2 separate regions of the Homo sapiens genome follow, and region 1 is linked to region 2. The links come from fine-mapping of genetic effects on gene expression. Tissue or cell type: whole blood. Region 2 holds a variant in brackets; the other region holds the start of a gene. All regions are shown on one strand. Distances are from middle to middle.

Evidence for each region. PIP is the estimated chance that this variant, and not a neighbour inherited with it, causes the effect.
Region 1: ZNF350 starts here. The variant in region 2 is fine-mapped to the expression of ZNF350 in whole blood (INTERVAL, PIP above 0.99).

What each region holds. Positions count from the first base shown.
Region 1 is chr19:51,982,969-51,991,074 of GRCh38, reverse strand. It overlaps ZNF350 (zinc finger protein 350), which reads left to right and starts at 4,235. Exons shown (of 5, transcript NM_021632.4): 1 at 4,235-4,305. RefSeq lists enhancers at 4,069-4,308, 3,895-4,770.
Region 2 is chr19:52,069,116-52,077,221 of GRCh38, reverse strand. It overlaps ZNF841 (zinc finger protein 841), which reads left to right. Exons shown (of 7, transcript NM_001136499.2): 5 at 138-264; 6 at 1,050-1,178. Among named protein-coding and RNA genes, the nearest start is that of ZNF841, 23 kb to the left of the region's middle. RefSeq lists an enhancer at 5,893-7,092. The variant TG/G (reference allele first, on the strand shown) is at 4,687.

The DNA of each region.
Region 1 (8,106 bases), 86 kb after region 2:
ATCTTGGCTTGCTGCACCCTCTGCCTCCGGGGTTCAAGTGATTCTCCTGCTTCAGCCTCCTGAGTAGCTGGGATTACAGGTGCCTGCCACTGCGCCTGGCTAATTTTTGTATTTTTAGTAGTGACGGGGTTTCATCATCTTGGCCAGGCTGGTCTCGAACTCCTGACCTTGTGATCCACCCGCCTCAGCCTCCTGAAGTGCTGGGATTACAGGCGTGAGCCACCACGCAGGACTGGAATGTTTTATTTTACCTATTCTATTGTGTGTGTATTGGTATGAATACAAACATACCAATTGTATGTGGCCTTCCATTTGCACCTCCCTAAAGGCTTTTTTTTTTTTTTTTTTAAGAGACAAGGTCTCACTATGTTGCTCAGGCTGGAGTGCAGTGGCTATTCACAGGCACCATTATAGCACACTACAGTCTCAAACTCCTGGTCTTGAGAAGTTTTCTGTCCCAGCCTCCAGAGTAGCTGGGACTGCAGGCATTTGCCACTGTGCGCTGCTTAGAGCATTGTTTATTAATGCTGGATAAAGATTTTATCCAGCTGGATAAAGGTTTTATATCACTTGCAAATATTTTTCCATAGATGTGGTTCTTTCTTTTTTTCTCTCAGAGAAAAAGATTTTAATTATGATGAAGTCCAACTTTTTTTTTTGAGATGGAATCTTGCTGTCTTGCCCAGGCTGGAGTGCAATGGCATGATCTCGGCTCACTGCAACCTCTGCCTCCCAGGTTCAAGTGATTCTTCTGCCTCAGCCTCCCGAGTAGCTGGGATTACAGGCACCTGCCATCATGTCCCACTAATTTTTGTACTTTTGTAGAGATTGGGGTTTCACCGTGTTGGCCAAACTGGGCTCAAACTCCTGACCTCAGGTGATCTGTCCACCATGGCCTCCCAAAGTGCTGGGATTACAGGTGTGAGCCATTGCACCCAGCCTTTTTTTTTTTAATGGATTGTGGGGTTTTGGCATTACATCTAAGTATTCCTTCCTTACTGTAATTGATAATTCTTTTTCCACTTCCTTTGACAAAATAATGTAGTTTTGCTTCTTTTTTTTTTTTTTTTTTTTTTTTTTTTTGAGACAGAGTCTCACTCTCTCACCCAGGCTGGAGTTCAATGGCATGATCTTGGCTCACTGCAACCTCCGCCTCCTGGGTTTAGGTGATTCTCCTGCCTCAGCCTCCCAAGTAGCTAGGATTACAGGCACGCACCGGCATGCTCAGCTAATTTTTGTATTTTTAGTAGAGACGGGGTTTCACCATGTTGGCCAAGATGGTCTTGATCTCCTGACCTCGTGATCTGGCCACCTCAGCCTCCCAAAGTGCTGGGATTGCAGGCGTGAGACACCACGCCCAGCCAGTTTTGCTTTTTAATATTTAGCAATATCCATTTAAATTCATCTTTGTATATAGGGTAAGGGTTAATTTAAAGTTCAGCCTATGGTTGCCCAGTTGATTCAACAGTATTGAAAACACTGTCCTCTTTCCATTAAATTGATTTTGAACATTTGTAAAAATCAGTTGCCTGTTCTTGTGTCCATTTCTTGACTCTATTCTGTTGATGTGCGTGTCTATCACTCCACTAATAATCTACGGTCACTCCCATCAGAAATGACATAATATGCTCTATGAGGTAAAACAGCTATGTTACCTCATATAAAATGTTCAAAGCCAGAACCTGGACTTTGGGAAATGTCCCATATCCCTCTCCGGAAGCCCGCCTCCCAGTCTCTCGGTGTTCTTAGAGATGGCGAAGGATGGGGTTGCAGCACCAGAATTCCAGAATCGGAAGTAGGTTCTGATACGTGTTCAGCCTTTGGCAGCTGCTACTGTAGCCTTGAAAGCCTGATGCTGCGTGTGAATCCGGATGGGGAGCTTGTGGGGACGACCATGAAGTGGAAACGCATGTGAATGTCCGTGTTCAGGGGTTTTATTTCAGTTTAGTCACCGAGGAATATGGGTGTGAGAAAGAGACCCTTGGGATGTCAAAGGTTAAGGCTTAGTTTTAAGAGTTTAATGACTGAGGGTCCCACGGACAGAGCTTGAGGTCTATATGTTCACTTTTCATGAGTCTCAGTAATAGAAAACTGGGGAAAGTGTGTCTCAGTGAATGCTGTTTTTTGCTCAGATTTGCAATTTAATATGGGGCTCAGATACAGAGAAGCCCGAGCTAGGAAGAGGAGTGGCGTGAATGAAAGGTCTAGGGGGAGGAGTGTCAAAGGAGTGCCTCTGTGGTAAGTTTTAAATTGAATTTGAAGGCAATTTTATTTAGAGGAAGACGGGGCTTGTCTGTGTTTGAGAATGTAATGAGGCTGGAGGCTTTCAGGTGTGCAGTTGAAGGTTAGTGGTTGCTTTGAGACTAACTGGATGCTGGAAACACTTCCTGTCAGTCTTTCAAGTCCAAATCTGTCCTGAAGGTTTCTATTTAAAAACTTTTTCTTCCTAGGTCCACTATTCTCATTGTACCCATAAAAATCAGAGTAATTCAGGGTGACGAAGTGGTGTCTTTACCGAGGAGTCTTGCTCTGTCGCCCAGGCTGGGGTGCAGTGGCGCGATCTCGGCTTACTGCAACCTCCGCCTCCCGGATTCAAGCGATTCTCCTGCCTCAGGCTCCCGAGTAGCTGGGATTACAGGCGCGCGCCACCGCGTCCGGGTAATTTTTGTATTTTTAGTAGAGACTGGTTTCGCTTTGTTGGCCAGGCTGGTCTGGAACTCCTGACCTCAGATGATCCGCCTGCCTCGGCCTCCCAAAGTGCTGGGATTACAGGTGTGAGCCACCGTGCCCCACTTCACTTTCTTAAATGTTGTGTTTAGAAGCACAAACTTAAAAAAAAATCAAGTCCACTTTATTAATTTTATTTTGTTTTGTGGGTCATCCTTTACTCTCCTCTCAGAATTAACTCACGTCCATGAGGATTATCTCCCTTTTCCTTCTCTAAGTTTTATACTTTCTCTTAAACTTAGATCTATGATCTATTTTGAGTTAACTTTTGTGTATGGTTTGAGGGTCCTAACTCATTTTTCTGGATGTGGATATCCAATTATCCCAGTGCCGCTTGTTGAAAAGACTATTCTTATTGAATTGTCTTGGCACTTTTGTCAAAAACTCTTAACAATATTTTTATACTCTCAATTCTGGCTCTGCTCTTCCCATTGGCACCTTTACTAAAAGTGGCCTTTCTAGGAGGCCCAATTCCTTTAGTCTGTCGTGGCCAGGCTCACATCGTAATTCATTCTCAAAATCTCTTTTCTCTCCTCTCCTCTCCTCTTTTCTCTTCTTTTCTCCTCTTTTCTCTTCCTTCTCCTCCTCCTCTTCCTCCTTCTTCTTCTTCTTTTTTGTAAATAATAATCATTTTTTCGAGGCCAGGCGCGGTGGCTCACACCTGTAATCCCAGCACTTTGGGAGGCCGAGACAGGCAGATCACGAGGTCAGGAGGTCGAGATCATCTTGGCCAACATGGTGAAAGCCAGTCTCTACTAAAAATACAAAAATTAGCTGGGCGTGGTGGCGCGTGCCTGTAGTCCCAGCTACTTGGGAGGCTAAGGCAGGAGAATCGCTTGAACCAGGGAGGCAGAGGTTGCAGTGAGCCCAGATCTCGCCACTGCACTCCAGCCTGGCGACAGAGCAAGACTCCGTCTCAAAAAAAATTATAATTTTTTTCTTTCTTCACCACCCGCCCCCCCGAATACCTGCTATTTTTCTGTTCTTAAAAACCGCTTCCTGCAAGCTAATTTTCGCCAGACGCTTTCCCGTGGGTGTCTGCCTACCTGATGTGTTGCCTTTTCCCTTTCTACCTGATCTGTTACCTTTTCCATTTCCAATTCATTCTCTGGGATACCTACACCTGGCTGCACTGTTACTTGTCTTTTTCAAAACCTTTTTTTTTAAATTTAACAAAGTGGATGGAAAAGCGCTAAAGGCAATTTAGCTTGCCCCATATTTGCCTGATAAAGCCTGAGTCTCTGAAAATCTGCCCCCTTTCGCAAGACTTTAAGTGCCAGGAAACGAGGCGATTTCAGTGACTTCTCTTCTTCCCTGGCTCCTGGCTCAAAAACCTGCCACTGCCTTCTGTGCGTCCAATTTTCAAACATGGCTGCCGTCAGGAGCCACGGCTATGGGCGCGGCCATTTTACAGAGTAGGAAATGCCGTAAATGCGCTTGTCCTTGCTCTTTTAAACATTTTAGGTTCTCCTCGGCCGCCGTAGGTGGACCATAAACCCGTGCGAGGACTCCAGAAGTAGGAGCAGTTTACGGAAGTGTAACGTTGAGGCCCTTCTTGTGTATCTGGAGAAAATAGAGGTCAGTGTGTGGTTTTGTCCCTGAAAGTTTTTTGTCCTAGTTCAGGTTTTGTCTCAGTGGAAGGTTTGGGAGATCTGAGGACGTGGTGTACCCTGGACCACATAGTTTTTGGCAGGAAGACTGGGGAGCGCCGGGGTATAGGCATTTGGGAGGTACCTGGTGGGAGTCTGTGATCCCCCTGTCTGTGGTCCGCGTGCCTTTGGTGTGAGTACAGTGACTAAGGGTCTGTAGTGATCAACGGCCGTGTCCTAACTGTCAAGGTATGGATCACTCTGCTTGTAAAGGATGGAGGTGGCGATTAGGATCGATGCGGCGTCTGCTTCGGGTTCAGGATTTAATTTGGAACTCAGTGATGTTGGAGTCTGGGAGGATGTCCATCGCTGTAGAGTGTCTGGTCCGTGGTTCGGATGAGTAAGAGGCATGGGGCCAGTGTCTGTGGTACAAAGGCTTGTGAGGGCTGAAGCTTTCGAGACTTTGGAGCCCTGGGTCCTGGGTTGAGGTTCGAACCTCGGTTACTGGGGCAAAAGGCGACACAGCCCCCAGCATTAGTTCGAAACCATATATCTACTCTTCTGATCCTTGGGGTGGCTATTTACAGATCGGGGGGTCAAGTTCAGTCATACCCTCCGATTATATATTGTCTATGGCTGCAAAGGCAGCGGTTGAGTTGTTGTGACAGAGACCTCGTGGCCGGCAAAATCGAAAATGTTGCCAACCTCTGCATTCACTTCTTTTATTTTTTATTTATTTTTTTTATTTTTTGAGACGGAGTTTCACTTTTGTCTCCCAGACTGGAGTGCAATGGCGCGATCTCGGCTCACTGCAATCTCCGCCTCCCGGGTTCAAGCGATTCTCCTGCCTCAGCCTCCTGAGTAGCTGGGACTACAGGCCCACGCCACCACGCCCGGCTAGTTTTTGTATTTTTAGTAGAGACAGGGTTTTACCACGTTGGGCAGGTTGGTCTCGAACTCCTGACCTCAGGTGATCCGCCCACCTTGGCTTTCCAAAGTGCTGGGATTACAGGCGTGAGCCACCGCGCCCGGCCTTCACTTCTTAATATATAGTGAGTGTTGCTTGCCCGCCTTATATTCACACTTTCTTAACAGAATCTCCATTTCGTGAAGTATTCATCCCTGTGGCAAGGCGACCCAAATCCCAGTTTCTTAGTAAGGCCTTGTTGGTCTTAGCCAATCTTGCTGGTTCCAATTGCCATTGCTAGTGATAGGTTTGACATGGAAATGAGCTTAGGCGTATGGTGCAATTCTAGCCAACTATGTATGTGAAAATCTGCCTGGGAGTTTCTGAGGGAGCATTTTCTTTTTTAAATATGTAATTTCTTGAATCTCTTTTTCCATGTTCGTGATGATATCGCCTGAAAATAACATTAATTTTCTGTCTTACTTTGTAATGCTTATAATTCATTCTTATCTTAATGCATTGGCTCAACTTTCCAGTATAAAGTAGGAAAATAGGGTGTTAGTGGACGTTCTTGTTTTATTACCCACCTGTAAAATTCACCCGTTGTGTTGTCTGGAGTTAACACCTTTCCTGGAGGTAAACTGTTTGGTATGGTTGATCTCTTCCTTTACTTTGTTAATTTTTCTACATTTATATATTTTAAATGTACAATTTAATTATCATGGAGGCAATATATGTATAAGCAGTCATTGCCCAGGTCAAGAAATAGAATATGGTCAGCACACCAGTGGTGTTCTGTGAGTCTTTTTCCATTCTCACACCGAAAAGTATTTTAGGCTTTTCTTTATATAATTAATCATTATTTATCATTGTAGTTAATACAGTTTTGCCTATTTTAAACTCTGTATATCAGTGGAATTGTACATCACTCTTTTTTTGTGTCAGCCTTCTTTTGCTCATTATTGGTGAGGGTCTTTCCTGTTGCATCTGAGTATATTTTCTTTGCTCAATGACAAGGATCAGGCGAATTTACAGTAAATATTTTAGGGCTTGCAGGCTACATATGGTCTCTTGCATATGCTAATTTGCTTTTTGTTTTACAGTCTTTCAAAAATGTAAAAAGCATTCTTGCAGGCTGGACCAAAGGTATAATAGGTTTTCTATCACATTCCATTATGTAAAATATAGCAGTTTTTTCTATTATTAATTACATTTGTATTACCTAAAGCTTGTATTATTAAGAATAATGCATGTGTGAAAATTTGTGTAAATGTCTTTTGGTTCATATGTGCTCTCATATGGGGGAGGCAGAGATGTATATCTAGATGTGCACCTCGGAGGAAAATTGCTGCTTCATAGAGTGTGTATAAACTCCGTCTAAATAGATGTCAAACTGTTTTCTAAAGTGGTTGTACCACTTACAGTTCCCCTAGCAGGATATAGTTTGCTTTATAGGGTGCTTTATGTGGCCTCTTTAAAATATCTGGCCATACCCTAATAACATTGAGAGATTCTCCTATATTAATGTTCTTTAAAGCTTTATTGATATGTTTCTACCATTGAAATTGACAGTTGATTCTAAAATGGTTTTTGTGTATGTTGTGAGGGGGGTTTTAACTTTCTGTCCCCATCCCCAGTACCATTTATTGATTTTTTTTTTTTTTTTTAATTTTTTTAGATAGAGTCTTGCTCTCGTCGCCCAGGCTGGAGTGTAGTGGCGTGCTTGGCTCAACTGCAACCTCTGCCTTCTGGGCTCAAGTGATTCTTGTGCCACGGCCTCCCGAGTAGCTGGAATTACCAGCAGGTGCCACCTTGCCTGGCTAATTTTTGTATTTTTAGTAGAGATGGGGTTTCACCATGATGGCCAGGCTGGTCTCCAACTCTGGCTCAAGTGGTCCACCTGCCTGAAGGGGGCCTGCCCCTCCACACCTGTGGGTATTTTTTGCAAGGTGGAAATGAGAGACTGAGAAAAGAAATCAGACACAGAGAGAAAGTACAGAGGAAGAAAAGTGGGCCCAGGGGACTGGTGTTCAGCATATGGGGGACCCACACCGGCACTGGTCTCTGAGTTTTGTTAGTATTTATTGATTACTATTTTTACCATCTTGGTGAGGGGGGTGTGGCAGGACTATAGGGTAATGGTGGGGAGAGGGTCAGTAGGAAAACATGTGAGTAAAGGACTCTGTGTTATAAATAAGTTTAAGGAAAGGTCCTGTGCCTTGATGTGTACGTAGGCCAGATTTATGTTTGACTTTACACAGACATCTTAGTGTAGTAAAGAGTAGTATTGCCGCCAGTATGTCTCACCTTTAGTTATAAGGTGGTTTTCTCCTATCTTAGTAAATAGAATGTATGATTGGGTTTTATACCGGGACATTCCATTCCCAGGGAGGAGCAGGAGACAGATGGCTTTCTCTTATTTTAACTGTAAAGAGGTCTTCCTCTTTCACTAATCCTCCTCAGCACAGACCCTTTACGAGTGTTGGGCTGGGAGATGGTCAGGTTTTTCCCTTCCCACGAGACCATATCTCAGGCTGTATCAGTGGGAGGAAACCTTGGACAATACCCAGGCTTTCTTGGGCAGAGGTCCCTGCGGCCTTCCGCAGTGCATTGTGTCCCTGGGTACTTGAGACTGGAGAATGGTGATGACTTTTACCAAGCATACTGCCTGCAAACACATTTTAACAAAGCACGTCCTGCACAGCCCTAAATCCATTAAACCTTGAGCCAACACAGCACACGTTTCTGAGCACAGGGTTGGGGCTAGGGTTACAGATTAACAGTATCTCAAGACAGAGGAACTTTTCTTTGTACAGATTAAAATGGAGTTTCTTATGTCTTCCTCTTTCTATATAGACACAGTAACAGTCTGATCTCTCTTTC
Region 2 (8,106 bases):
TTATCTCACAGATACTTTTAATGGATATGTCAAAACACACTTCAATCAAATTGATGTGACAGTTCTCTCCTCTTCTCATTTTATGTAAAGATAAGAGCTCACCCACTGCTCATATTGAAATGTGTTTTTCATTTCAGGGATCTTTGACATTCAGGGATGTGGCTGTAGAATTCTCTCAGGAGGAGTGGAAATGCCTGGACCCTGTTCAGAAAGCTTTGTACAGGGACGTGATGTTGGAGAACTACAGGAACCTCGGCTTCCTGGGTGAGGATAGTTTTCCTCCAGAAGTTAGGATCTTCCCTTGTGCATTTTTGTACTTTCCTTATTGTGTTTCTTGTGAGGCCCTACATTATTTGACAGAGACTGAAGCCTTGTTGATTCACAAATAAAAAGCTTCATAATGCTGCATCTGGCCTTTAACTGTCCCATTTCTATGGATATTCTGCTTCCTTCTTTGTACATTAGTGGTGACTCCAGAGCTGAGGTACGTGTAAAACCTTATGGCGGAGTTAATATATCCAATTCCCTGTTCTTCCTGTTTTCTATCCTTGTGCTTTTTTTTTTTTTTTTTGACACAGTCTCAGTCTGTCACCCAGGCTGGAGTGCAGTGGTGTGATCTTGTGATCTTGGCACACTGCAACCTTAGCTTCTTGGGATAAAGCCATCCTCCCACCTTAGCCTTCCAAGTAGCTGGGACTGTGGGTGTGCAACACCATGCCCAGGTAGAGACAGGGTTTCACTCTGTTGCCTAGGCTGATCTTGAACTCCTGTGCTCAAGTCATCTTCCCGTCTTGGCCTCCCAAAGTGCTGAGATTACAGGCTTGAGCCAGTATGCTTGGCCTATCCCTGTGTTTTTGATTCAGTATTTCTTGGGAGAGAGCTAGATATCTTCATCTTACAGTGTTCACTAAGCATTCAGAAGGAGGCAATCAATGGATGAGTTTGTGAAATATTTTGTAGATTCAACTGCAGTGTTTTCTCTTCTACCTAGACATTAGGCTGGGTTCTGGAAAAACCGTGGGACATCTTCTTTCTTTTTTTATAAGCAGGACTCTGTCTTCCTGACCTGAATATTATCTCCATGTTGGAGCAAGGGAAAGAGCCCTGGACTGTGGTGAGCCAAGTGAAAATAGCGAGGAACCCAAACTGTGGGGAATGCATGAAAGGCGTGATCACCGGTAAGAGCTCAGATGGGCACAATGGAAGCGGTACCATGAAATTGTGTGCGTAAGACTCTGCAAGTGGGAGAGTTCTGTGGGGAAACAAATTTGATTTTCTGTGAGCTCCAGAAGTTTTCTTCTTTCCTGCTTATCACTTTGCTTTCCAGACACGTATAACTTTACCTTTCACTCTCCAGGGGTTGCTGCAGCTCAAACAGAGCAAAGTACAAGACTGTTATGATGGACCACAGTGTCATCTGTATTGTGTGAACTCTGATGCTTTGACTCTGTGGCATGGGAAGGGCCTTTTCAAAGAAGTCTCTTTCCCGTGTGGTCTCTCCTCCTGTTCTTGATTCCATCTGATCCTCAGTTCTCTGATCCATATAGATTGGAGCTGAGGGCTCCATAGTCCTGGTGCCTGGAACTTTTCTGGTTCCACCCCATTTCCTATACTTGAAAGTGCTGGTCAGGAGATGAGGAAACATTGGTTGCCCTTCCTTTGAAGCTGGGGTCCTAGAACTGGACTATCTTCAGCCCTCTCTGCCTGTTCAGGTCCCTCAGCCATTTTCTTAGTTCTTCTTTGGACACTCTTCTTGGGTTTGTGACACGGGAATGAGTTGGGTCTCCTGAGATTGTTACATATAAGAATTGTAAAGACAGTTGACACAAAGGTCCTCTCTTTATTCTTAGTCCTACACAGGGAGCGTATCTCTGTCTTCACACTCTTAGTTTGGGATCTGTGGACAGAGCACTGTCTCATTTCAAGATCCCTCACAATCCAATTCCTGTGTTTTTCTCTGTCTTGTTTATGCCTTGGCTCTTTCTGATCTTGCATTCTCTTTTATGTTTGTGTGATTTTTTGCCTCTGAGACTTGCTTTGGATAAATGCATTTCTAGGGTCGGACATTTTATGCTTTTTTCCTGCTGTGATAACCCATCTTGGGGTTATGAATATCTTGTGGACTATTGTATGGAGTGAGTTTACTGGGTAAGAGAAAATTTTTGAAGGAGAGCACTTTGAGTAATGAGTTTTAACATCATCTTGCTACATACAGAGGTAACTATTAAAGCCAGAGTAGAATGATCAGCATTTGTCATGATATTCAGATAGAGACCATCACAAGAGCCTGGTTTCTGAGAAATGTCACAAAAGTATCTTTCAAGGGTACTGTGGCAATGTTGATCTCATATACTAATGGTCCTCTTTTTTGAGCTAGCAGTGAATGGTGTAGGAATTTCTCCCATGCCGGGCACGGTGGCTCAACGCCTGTAATCCCAGCACTTTGGGAGGCTGAGGCGGGTGGATCACCTGAGGTTAGGAGTTCTAGACCAGCCTGGCCAACTTGGTGAAACCCCGTCTCTACTAAAAATACAAAAGTTAGCCGGGCGTGGTGGCAGGCACCTGTAATCCCAGCTACTCGGGGGGCTGAGGCAGGAGAATCTCTCAAATCTGGGAGGCGGAGGTTGTAGTGAGCTGAGATTGCGCCATGCACTCTAGCCTGGGGAACAAGAGCGAGACTTTGTCTCAAAAAAAAAAATTTCTCCCGGGAAGAACATTGTCCAGGTTCACAGCTTCATCTCTGCAGGGCTGTTGCCTGAACCACTGCTCATGCCACACTTTTCTTCCCCAGTATTTTTGTTTATAGTGAGTACGACTTTGATCTTGAGGAAGCTAATGAAGTTGAATGAGGCTTATCTTTTTTAAGTCCACAAAATTCGTTTTAAGCAACCATTGCTTTCATCTGATGCATTTTCATGTATTATAAATGAACTTTGTTTTTATTTATTTAATCAGTTCCATATTTTTGAGGATACTCAGTTTTCTTTGTTTTATGTTTCTATTGTGGTAGTGTTGTGTTGGGGAATGCATATTGTTTTATGTATTTTACAAGATTTCCTTCTTTAGTACAGATGGTATAGCTCAGCAGCAGTTTCCCTAAAACTTACAGAAACTCCATAATGTTGTATTGATAGTATCAGTTATTCCTTTTACTTCTGTTTCACCTGACTTAATTCCTACTATGAAAGTATATATTTGTCGGTTAAATTGATTACAGTTTTTAAGTTGGAAATTTTTAATATCTTGAGCATAATTTTTTAAGTTACTATCTTAATTGTGGAAATACCATTTAATAGATTGATCGTTCTTTGTTATATAACATACATTGCTTTTCTGTAGTAAGTTTCAGTTTCCTAAATATAGCTTGCTGGGTTTTGTTCAAATTGCACTGTTTTTTTCTTTCTTGGAACAAATGCTGTATTATAATAACTATTCTCCTATCTACATTCATGTCCATCATGTTATACTGAATCATTATTTAAAAATCTAACTTTATTTTAAACTTAGCCCATTTCTTACACTTCAGGGACTTCTCTACTATTTATAAAACCTATATATTTTTTTCGTGATGCTCAAGCAATGAAGAATAAATTCTCTTAAAAAACTGGTATTGGGCCAGGAGCAATGGCTCATGCCTGTAATCCCAGCACTTTGGGAGGCTGAGGCAGGCGGATCATTTTGAGGTCTGAGGTCAGGAGTTCGAGACCAGCCTGACCAACATGGTGAATCCCTGTTTCTACTAAAAATACAAAAAAATTAGCCGGGTGTGGTGGCACATGCATGTAATCTCAGCTACTTGGGAGGCTGAGACAAGAGAATTGCTTGAAGCCAGTAGGCAGAGGTTGCATTGAGCTGAGATCACACTGCTGTACTTCAGCCTGGGCGACAGAGCAAGACCCTGTCTCTAAAAAAAAAAAAGAAAAAAAAACAACAACTTGTATTTTGTCCAGAAAAGTTTTTCCTAGATTTTCTTCTAGAATTTTTGTAGCTTGAAGACTTAATGTAAGTCGTTATTCATCTTGAATTAATTTTTGTATATGACAAGAGATAGGAGTCCAGTTTCATTCTTCTATATATGGCTAGCCAGTTTTTCTAGCACCCTTTATTGAATAGAATGTCTTTTCCCAATTTTTTTTTGACTATCAAGGATCAGTTGGTTGTAGGTGTGTGGCTGTATTTCTGGGTTTCCTATTCTGTTCCATTGGATATCTTCTGTTTTAATGTTAGCATTTATATCTGCAGATTTTCTATCTTAGCACTGTTTTTCCTGCATTCACAAGTTTTGGTATGTTCTATTTTCATTTTCCTTTGTTTTGAGATTTTTAAAATTTCCCTTGTGATTTCTAATTTGACATATTGGCTGTTTAAGAGTATGGTCCTTGTTTGTTTGTTTTTGTTTTTTGAGACGGAGTTACGCTCTTGTTGTCCAGGCTGGAGTGCAGTGGTGCAATCTCGGCTCACTGCAACCTCCACTTCCTGGGTTCAAGCGATTCTCCTGCCTCAGCCTCCCGAGTAGCTGGGATTACAGGCATCTGCCACCATGCTTGGCTGAGGGTTTCACTATGTTGGCCAGGCTGGTCTCGAACTCCTGACCTCAGGTGATCCACCTGCCTCAGCCACCCAAATTGCTGGGATTACAGGCGTGAGCCACCACACCGGCCTAAGAGTATGTTGTTTCCACATATT[TG/G]TTGATAATCTAATTTTCTTCTGCTGTTGATCTCTAGTTTTATTTTATTATGATGGGATAAGTTATGCTTTACGATTTTAGTCTTTAAAAAGTTTAAAATTTTTTTTCTTTTCCGATATTTCTTTTGAAAAATGTTTCATGTGCAGTTCTGAAAAATTTGTATTGCACTGTTTTTGGGTGATGTGTTATGCATATATAGGTTAGGTTCAACTTGATATATAGTTTAGGTTCTCTAGTTCCTTGTTTTTCTTCTGTCTGATTGTCCTATTTATAAGTAAAAATAGGCCATTGAAGTCTCTTATTATTACTGTGGAACTACTTCTCCCTTTAGTTACGTTAATTTTGCTTCACATATTGAGGATCTCTATATAGGCACATATTGTTATATCCTCCTAGTGAATTAACCTTTTAATCATTATATAATGCCCTTCTTTGTCTCTTGTACCAGTTTTGACATAAAGTCTATTTTGGCTGACATCAGTTTAGCCACCTCTGATGTCTTTCGGTTAACATTTTGAGGGCATATCTTTTTTCATCCCTTCAGTTCAGCCTATGTGTGTCCTTTGAATTAAAATGAGTATTTTCTGGATAGTGTGCAGCTGAAGCCAGTTTTAAAAATTTATTCAGCCAGTCTCTGTCTTTTGACTGTGGAGTATAAACACTTACATTTAATGTAATTACTGATAGAAAAGGACTTATATTGCCATTGTGTTAAGTGCTTTCTATATCTCTTTTAGATTTTTTTGTTCTGTTTGTCTTACTGCCTTCGTTTTTATATAGTTGATTTTTTTTTCCTGAAATAGTTTTATTTCCATTGTGTGTGTCTTCTATACATTCTCTGTGGTTACCGTTGCAATTACAGAAAACACTTTAGATTTATAACATCCTATTTTAAACTAATAACAGCTTAACTTCAATTACATACAGAAATGACTTTTTACAGATCTGCTTCCATGTTGTGTTTTTGATATCCCAGGATACTTTCATCGTATATACTGTGTCTCCATTAACATATATTTAAACCTTGACAAGAGTCTCCTGCTTTCTTTGTTTTCTCAAATCTTTGCCTGTTGTGCTACGGGTCCTCATTCTGCACCCCGTCTCCTTAACGTTCTTGTACTATCAGTAAAGTTTTGTGGTGTCTTTGTGTGTGTACAAAATGAATTCATCCATCTCCTCTTCGTGGCCATTTTCAGGTTTTTTCTTAAGGATTGAATTGTAAGAACAGTCTTTCACATATCTCTTGATATGTAGGGTTGTTGAGCATATACCTGGAAATAGAACTTATGGGACATTCAGTTTGATAAATTTCATAGCAAATATTATAGAGACATAAATCTGTTTTCTTCCCATATCATCACACCGCCTCCTTTTTAATTGTCTTCCCTTGTTGTCCTGCACCCATAGTATAATTCTCATGTTTAAGTATTAGTCAGTACAATACTACCTCTACATTAGTTTCTCTTTTCTTCCAAAGCCAGGATTTTAGCTGTTTCTTGTGCAATTCTATTCCCACAGCTCTTCAAGCACAAACCCTGCTGCTCCATGCTCATTACTCCTTGATCTCCCCTCTTGCCCTTTGTCCTCCTGGGCCTTTCCTAACATATTACTTTGTCCAGATGGACTACCCAGTTACTGACTAGCATATTAATTTTATACTCCCATTATTGCAGAACTCCCTCACCTCCCATGCTACTCTCACTCTGTAAGGGGTGACCCCTACTCATTCACTTGACCACTGTCTGATAACACTGCGTAAATCAATATGTGCAGGGGATGATGACTCAGATACCGTTCGTTATTCATGACGGATGGCTGAATAATGCTTTTGGCAACACAGCATTGCAGGGAGCCAAAGCCTGTGGGACGTGACCAACTCAGCATTCCACTGGAGGCTATATGATCAAACAGCAAACTGTTTATCATGAATGCAGGATGTGGGCAAACTCATGACTGCTCCTGCTGACAGAAGGTTTGCTGGAGGCAATCACTTCCTGGTGCCAGGGTTATCTACTGCCATATCTAGAGCCTGTTGTTTGAGGAATGCAGTCTTGCAAGCCTACTCTGGACTGCGCAGCTGACCCCTTCTTCCACCATCCTTCTCACTATCTCTCTTGCCTAATAAATACGGACGGCTGTGTAAAGCTCAGGGCCCTTGTCCACTACAGGCAAGGTGCCCCTGACCCCTTCTTCCAAATATACTCTTTTGTCTCTTGTCTTTTATTCCCGCATTCGCCCCCTTTGTTCAGTCCTCCTAGGTCCATGTGGGTTACATAGTGGCACCCTGAACAGCGACAGAATCAGGTGCTCTACACAAAATGGCTCTTGAAGTATTTCTACACTCTTGATATTTGGGTTGACCTGTTATCTGCACTGCTTGTTTGGGAAGTTGTTTTTAAAAAACATGTTTGATCTTGCAAACCCAGGTTCTTGTGTCTTACTTTCTTTGTAAATTGGGTATAGATACATAAATCCTGTGGGCATATTTAGTGTGCTTGTTTGTTAAATAGTGATAATTTACCTAAAGACTTTTTAAACAAGTTAATGCTGTTAGCTAGCTTAGAATATTGCATGTTTTATAGTACAGACTCACAAATTTGTTTAATAACGTGTATCAACATTGTTTCATGTTTATAATGAGATAGCATATTGGCTTTACCTTAGTCAGCATGACTAGCTATATCAGATACCATAGATAGGGTGGTTTAAACAGCAGAAATGGACTTTTCACAGATCTGGGTGGTGCAAAGTTCAACATGTCAGAGCCAGCCACTTTGGTTCTTGGTGTGGACTTTTTTCTGGTGTGCCATGGCTGACTCTGTGTTCTCATGTGGCAGAGAGATTGTCATGCAAAAAGCAGAGGCTTTTTCACGTTTCTGCTAATTGCATTCCTGAAGTTCTATGCACCATCCTGACCTAATTGCCTTCCAAAGACCACACTTCCAAATACTATCACATTGAGGATGGGGCCTTAACATAGGAATTTTGGCAGACATAAGTCTTTATATCAGAGCAGTCTACATTGTATCTGTAAGTTTTCATTTTGCAGTTTGGTCCAAACGGTGTTGTCTTTTATCTCAGTTCATGCATTTTCCAAGTACAATCTCTGTATCATATATATTTTGTGGCCAAGGAACTGGATAATAAAGACAGTGAATAGGACTGGGCACGGTGGCTCATGCCTATAATCCCAGCACTTTGGGAGGCAGAGGTGGGCAGATTGTTTGAGCTTAGGAGTTCCAGACCAGCCTGGGCAACATGGCAAAACCTCATCTCTACCAAAACTACAAAAAAATTAACCGGGCATGATGGCATGCATCTGTGGTCCCAGCTCTCAGGAGGCTGAGGTGGGAGGATCGCTTGAGCCTGTGAGTTGGAGGTTGCAGTGAGGTGGGATCATGCCACTGTACTCCAGCCTG